Homo sapiens: one gene and its partner. The protein of the gene in region 2 interacts with the protein of the main gene of each other region in a pairwise test. Each region holds a gene or a part of one and is shown on either strand. Other genes may lie near its edges.

Region 1 (4,600 bases), on a different chromosome or scaffold from region 2:
TCCTAGCTAGTATTCCAGCTGAAGAAAATGGGCAGATTGGGAATAAATTTTGTTTATATTTTTAGTATCATCTTCTATGCAAGTGGGTTATCCATGGGATATTTTAAATCAATGCTGCAAAACACCCTATAGAGCTTCCAACTTTACCTCATAAGATATCTGTATAGGGACTGCGATCTAAATATAGTGTTAGTCTATTAAGAGAGAAACATACAGGAGGCAGTAACACAATGCTTTTCAAATCCAAAGAGAGTTTATGAGGGACACTGATGGTTCCTTATTTTAAAAATAGATATTAACTGCCAATATATTAAATACCAAGTTATGTTTTTAAAATAAAATTTTTGCTAGAAAATTTTCCTTAGATACTAAAATGCCACTTAAGCCTTCAAAATTTTACATCCTGGATTAGCAAATAATGACTATTATAGCATGGGAAATGCTAGCTTGATTTCAAGTTACTATATTATCATAAAGAGGTTTTCTGTGCGAAAACTAGTGGTGAATTTTTATGTTCCATATCAGGTGATTAACTAATATAAACTGAGCAATACTACATATATTGCAGGGCTTCACAACCGTGGTACTACTGACATCTAGGCTGGATCATTCTCTGTTGTAGGGGCTGTTCCATGCACTATGAGATATTTAGCGGCACCCCTGACCTCCACCCACTGTATGGCAGTAGCATTCCCTATACCATGAGGTTGGTGCAAAAGTAATTGTAGTTTTTGCCATAGTTGTGACAACCAGAAACATCTCTAGTCATTGCCAAATGTCCAGGGTGGGAGCAGGAGCAAAAATCATTCCAGTGGAAAATAACTGACATACTGAATAAGTCTGATAATAAAATTTCCAAGTTATGTAAACTAACAGATAAAGTACTGAGTATTTGCAAGTTGAAAGTTCACTGAAGTTGGGAACTGAACCTCTACTTCTACTACCCACCCTCCCACCTCCACCCAGTGTGCTATCTCATACACTTCGTGATATGGTTTGGATGTGTCCCCACCCAAATCTCATCTTGAATTGTACTCCCATAATTCCCACATGCTGTGGGAAGGACCCGATGAGAGATAATTTGAATCATGGGGGCAGCTTCCCCCATACTGTCCTCATCATAGTGAATAAGTATCATGAGATCTGATGGTTTCATCAGGGGTTCCCGCTTTTGCATCTTCCTTATTTTCTCTTGCCGCCACCAGGTAAGAAGTGCCTTTCAGCTGGATGCGGTGGCTCACGCCTGTAATCTCAGCACTTTGGGAGGCTGAGGACAGTGGATCACAAGGTCAGGGGTTCGAGGCCAGCCTGGCCAACATGGTGAAACCCCCATCTCCACTAAAAATACAAAAATTAGCCAGGCGTGGTAGCGCATGCCTGTAATCCCAGCTACTCAGGAGGCTGAGGCAGGAAATTGCTTGAACCTGGGAGGCAGAGGTTGCAGTGAGCTGAGATCATGCCACTGTGCTCCAGACTGAGTGACAGAGCAAGACTCCATCTCAAAAAAAAAAAAAAAAAAAAAGAAGTGCCTTTTGCCTCCCACCATGATTCTGAGTCCTCCCCAGCCATGTGGAACTGTAAGTGCAATTAAACTTCTTTTTCTTCTCAGTCTCAGGTATGTCTTTATCAGCTGCATGAAAACGGACTAATACACCTTGCCTCATCTCTTGCATTCAACACACACATGTTGATTGGCTCTTCTACAACTCCTCTGAAGGTTTTTAGAGTTCCATTGGAGTTCCATCAAGGGTAGCAAAAGACAGAAATCTATGGACTTAGGAGAAAATGACAGAATATGCATTCATTACCATGCAAAATCTAACTTGAGAAGAAAGGCAAAACCAAGGCGGGGAAATACGCTGACAAGAAAAATCAGTGAAACAGTCCACAGCTTCCACAGTTAGGCAGGCATTTTCTAGGTCTCAGTGTTGTCACCGGGATTAAGCAATGTCAGTGGGTACCACAAACGAGCCTATAATTTATGTAGAAGATGAGGGAGGAAGTGTACTCAAAATGAAAGGCAGTGCACCTATGTTCACAGCAGCACTATTCACAACAGCTAGAAGGTGAGAGCCACCCACGTATCTATCAGTGAATGAACAGACAAACAAAATGTGGTATACACATACAATGGAATATTAATTCAGCCTTAAAAAGGAAGGAAATTTTGACACATGCTACAACATGTATGAACTCAGAGGACATTATGTCAAGTAAAATAAGCCAGACACAAAAAGATAATTACTAGTTGATTCTACACATCTGAGGTCCTAGACTAGTAGTTAAATTCACAGAGAGAGAAAGGAGAAGAGTGGTTGCCAGTGGCCGGTGGGAGGACGGGAATGGGAGTTATTTAATGGGTATAGTTTCAGTTTTGCAAGTTAGAAAGAGTTTTGAGGATAGATCATGTTGATGGTTATACAATATGGATGTACTTAATGTCACTAAACTGCACACCTAAAAATGGATAATATGGTAAATTTTGTTATGTGTATTTTACTACAATTAAATAGAGAAAAAAGGGAAAGGCAAAGGAGAGCATGTGGTAGAGGAGAAAGAAAGAAGCAATACAGGAAGATGGAAATTTATGGTCTTTGAGGGGAATCCTCTTGACCTTGGCATTTATTACTTATGGGACCTAAGGTGAGCTACTTAGCATAATTGATTCTTTGTGTCTTCATCGGCATAATTGATGTGAGGATTAGCATATGATTGGCAATAGTAGATATTCAATTAATGACAGAAAAATGAAAATATAAAGAAAAATAGGGAAAAGATAAAAGACAGAGGTGAAATGTTGGGAAGTGGTATGTTATCAAAAATGACATATGCATCACTCTTTATGATGTTGTCTGCCTTCCTTTGAGACAACTAAAAACTTCCAAGGGAGATGAGATATAAAAACATCTTCAGAGCATCTGTGAAATGTAGTTTGTACAGCAATGACAAGTGATTTTCAAAGTTTTTTGGGTGGCAGAGAACCTGGAAACTACTTAAAACACTAGAAGTAATTAAAATAACTGAATAGAAAATTCTAGCCCACACAAAATGACATTTTTCACTAGATTATGATACGTATAACAAAGCCAAAGATCTAGAATTGTTTTCTGGGAAAAAGGCCTTAAGCATTCCATTCATTAAATTAAATTCCTGAGAACTGGGAAAAGTTATTAGCACCGGAACACGCTGGTCACTCATGGAACATCAGTGCATATAAAAGTAGAACTTAAGAACCACAGGCTTGCAGCTTTCCAGATACATTAAGTACAATACAGATCAGTGTAAACCATTAATTAACCAATTGTATAAATAAGAAATTTGGGGAGGTATACCAAAGGGTTGTTAATTGGCCTGTTTCAGGGTCATAAAACTCTATGGGGAAAGTGAGTGCTGTCGGACTTATTTGCCCTTCCACTTTCTTTCATACATTTCCCCAGAAAATAGCAAAGATAGTCAATAACATAATGTAGATTTTTTAATGTAGATTTCTTCTGAATTCTTAAAAAAATGGTGTCTTTCAATCAGTTATTAGAGATAGAATGACTAAAACTGTAGTCACGATTCACCTAAAAGGGGAAAATGAAGAACAATAAAACATCCTACAAGCCATGTCCAGACTTAAGTGACTCCAGGTTAAATTCGAGATGTATCACATGCTTGGGAAAGGATGTTTTTTTTCCACAACAAAGGGAGAGGAGCATAAAGATGTCAAATCGCTTCTGACTGAAAACCAAAGACTCTCATTAGAATGCAAAGAACTAGTTTTCAGGCCACTTGCTTTGTGAACAAAGCTCCATCAAATAAGATTAAGTTACACTCGAATTACGACATACAATCAGCCCTTTGGAGAAACAATCTTCAGAGCGGCCTGTGACAGAGGTCTGCCTGGAAGTACTGTTACAGCCTTGTCTAAGGACCCAGAGAAGCAGCATTGGGGGTGGGCACTGCTCTCCATCCCTGGAAGCTTGGCTCACTGTTGGAACTTCCTCCTTCCCTTCCTCTCTCTCTTTCTCTCCTCCCACCTAACCCTTTATTTTTTTCAAGACAGGATTTGCTCTGTCACCCAGGCTGGAGTGTGGTGGCACCATCACAGCTCAATGCAGCCTCCGCCTCCCAGGCTCAGGTGATCCTCCCACCTCAGTCTCCCGAGTACCTAGGACTACAGGTATGTGCCACCACATCCAGCTAATTTTTGGATTTTTTTGTAGAGATGGGGTTTCCCCATGTTGCCCAGGCTGCTCTCCAACTCCTGGGCTCAAACAATTCTCCTGCTTTGGCCTCTCAAAGAGTTGGGATTACAGGTGTGAGCCACTGTTCCTGGCCTTCTGTTAGAATTTCTTACCACTAAGAGAAGAAAGTCTCTCTCTGGGTTGTCAAAAGATATAAGAATATCTCGTCCTAAGATAAAACAGTATTCCATAATCTGTCAACTTCTCAAATTATTATAATTATAAATAATGATAATGATAAAATGGTGGCAGTGCATATTTAATAACTATAATTTGGTCACAGAATTACCATTGATATTAATAAGGCTAAGTAATGATACTAGGTGCTTATAGAGTCTTCTACCTACAAATTTTATAGATAATATCTTAGC
Region 2 (2,755 bases):
CTGGGCTCAGTGGCTCACGCCTATAATCCCAGCACTTTGGGAAGCCGAGTCAGGTGGATCACCTGAGGTCGGGAGTTCAAGACCAGCCTGGCCAACATGGTGAAATGCTGTCTCTACTAAAAATACAAAAATTAGCTGGGTGTGGTGGCATACACTGTAATCCCAGCTACTCAGGAGACTGAGGCATGAGAATCACTTGAATCCAGGAGGCAGAGCTTGCAGTGAGCCAAGATTGCACCACTGCACTCCAGCCTGGGCAACAGAGTGACCCTGCCTCAAAAAAAAGGCAAAAAAAAAAAAAAAAAGAAGAAGAAGAAGAAAGAAAAAAAAAGGAAAGAAAGAAGGCAGGGAGAAGGGTGGAAGGAATGGCAACTGCCCACAGATAATACATGAAGTGACTAAACTGAATGTGGCTACTCAAGATTTGTCCATGCTGTACCCAAATGAAGCAGGGTCCAGCCTCAGAGCTCTTGCATTTGCTGTCCTCCCTCCAGGAATGTTCCTCCCCCAAATAATTTGCATACCTAATTATTTCCTTAGTTTCCTGCAAGTCACCTTCCTGATGATAAAAATGTCACCTTTTTAGTGAGGCCTTCCTTGACCACATTACTGCCCTTGCTGCATACTTCCTATTCTCTTTCTCTGTTTAATTTTTCTTTTTATTACTCATCACCAACGCACTATGCGTTTTAGTTGTTTATTTTTAATCCCCACTAGAATGTACATTCCATGAAGGCAGAGATTTTTGTGTTTTATTCACTATTGTCGCCCCAGTGCTGAGAACAGTGTCTGGTACAGAGTAGGAGCTTAATAAATGTGATGATTGGAGGGCTGCATAAATAAGCGACCACACCCTGAGAAAAGGAAGGGGCGGTCCAGCCAGACCCCTCTGGGTACTGAGACACCCCGACTGATTCCCTGTCTTGGAGGAAATGTACCGCCTGACCTGGAGGGGACGACAGTGTCAGGACCTTCAGCCAAACTCTGCTCTGTGTTGAGGGGCACACCCCCACCCCTGCCGTCAATCTCTCACCACTTACCATCTTCCACACGAAAAAACCAAAGCATCTCTTCCAGCAGCTCCTGGGGTACCACAGTACCGGCTGGGTCTCCGGGAGCCCCCTCACTGTGCTCCATGCCCCTGCTCCTGGTAGCGTGTGCAACGAGGTCCTTAGACCCCTTAGCCCCAGCAGCCCTCCTGGCCTCCTCGGTTCTGGCCCCTGGGCAGAGAAGCCGTGAAGACCCCTGGAAACAAAGCAGACAGCATGACTGGATATCCCACCCGAGTTTGATCTCCCTCTGTGCCCAAATCCAGATCTCCTCTGGCCCAAAGTTATGGGACAAAAACGACCCGAACGAACCCAGGAGCACGTGGAGCCTGGAGGGGCAGAGACTGGAAGTGGGAGTGACTCAAATATTTATTAAAAGCCATCGCATGTGTGGAGGAGCACTGTTCTGGGAGTGAGGAGGACTGAGCCACTGGCGAGTTCTGGGACCCTTGCAAAGGACATCTCGGGTCTTCGCCTGCCTGTTCAGCGTCCGCACCTGGCTTCTACGAGCCCACAGCGCGCCCACGCGTTGCCATAGCAACTTGTCCCTTGGGTGTCATGCGGTAGCCAATCACAGGCCTGTGTTTCCCCACATGTCAAAGGCTGGGCCTATCACGCCTCTCTCCTGGGGATTGGCACGCCTACGACACAGAGAGGAGAAAAGGGAAAAGTGCCGGAGGGAAAGGCAGCTGCCGGCTCCTGATGCTGAGAGGGCACCCCCTGCCCCGACCCCGAGAGCTTTTTTTTTCTTTTTCTTTTTTTTTTGGACAAGTTAGCAGAATTGGTTTCTGTTATTTGCAAGGGAAGAACTTGAATCCATGCTCTCTGGATAAATCCCTTACTTCGTGTAGGCCTATTTCCATCCCAACTATTAATAATAAACTGAACCTCAGTCAATCTCAAAACAGTCAGACATTTTGACGTCTTCTTGTACTAACTGCATTATTACTACTTAATATAAAATTTTCTAGCATCCATACTTTACAAAACAAAAAGAAATAGGTAAAATTAATTTTGACAACATATATTATTCAGGCCAATATTAAAATTGTTAAGTTATTTCGCTTTTTTTTTTTTTTTTTTGAGACGGAGTCTCACTCTGTCGCCCAGGCTGGAGTGCAGTGGCACGATCTCTGCTCACTGCAACCTCCGCCTCCCAGGTTCAAGCGATTCTCCTGTCTCAGCCTCCTAAGTAGCTGGAATTACAGGCGCATGTCACTACCGCCCCACTAATTTTTGTATTTTTAGTAGAGATGGGGTTTCACCATGTTGGCCAGGCTGGTCTCGAACTCTTGACCTCAGGTGATCCACCCGCCTTGGCCTCCCAAAGTACTGGGATTACAGGAGTGAGCCACCGCGCCTGACCCAATAACACATTTTTTTAAAAGGACACGCATTAAACACATTAAGCTGTGTCTTGGGGAGGAGGAGGAAGGGAGTAGGAATGGAGATAAACGTAACTAAAATAAAACAAGAGAAGTGTTTTGAACAGATCAATTATAAAACATGCCATAGGGCACCAAGAAAAAAAGTGTACAGGGAGGATCGAAGCATTCTCAGGTCCCCTCACACTCTGTCACTGCCTTAGGTGCTCAACAATCTCAGCCCCAAATAGCCTTTGGACACTTAGCCAGGGGCATTCAAAAACAGCTAGATGGCAAACAGCCAGACAGAAAATTGGAGTATCAACAAAAGGACTAGCTTTA

The links.
Region 1: the proteins of SLC51B (region 2) and ASPH interact in binary tests that used the Homo sapiens proteins (3 or more experiments, as listed by UniProt).

What each region holds. Positions count from the first base shown.
Region 1 is NC_000008.11:61,503,993-61,508,592, forward strand, and holds part of ASPH (aspartyl/asparaginyl beta-hydroxylase), read right to left. Parts: intron 1-4,600.
Region 2 is NC_000015.10:65,048,387-65,051,141, reverse strand, and holds part of SLC51B (organic solute transporter subunit beta), read right to left. Parts: intron 1,955-2,755; exon of another isoform or gene 1,246-1,954; 5' UTR 1,138-1,245; coding exon 1,041-1,137; exon of another isoform or gene 1-1,040.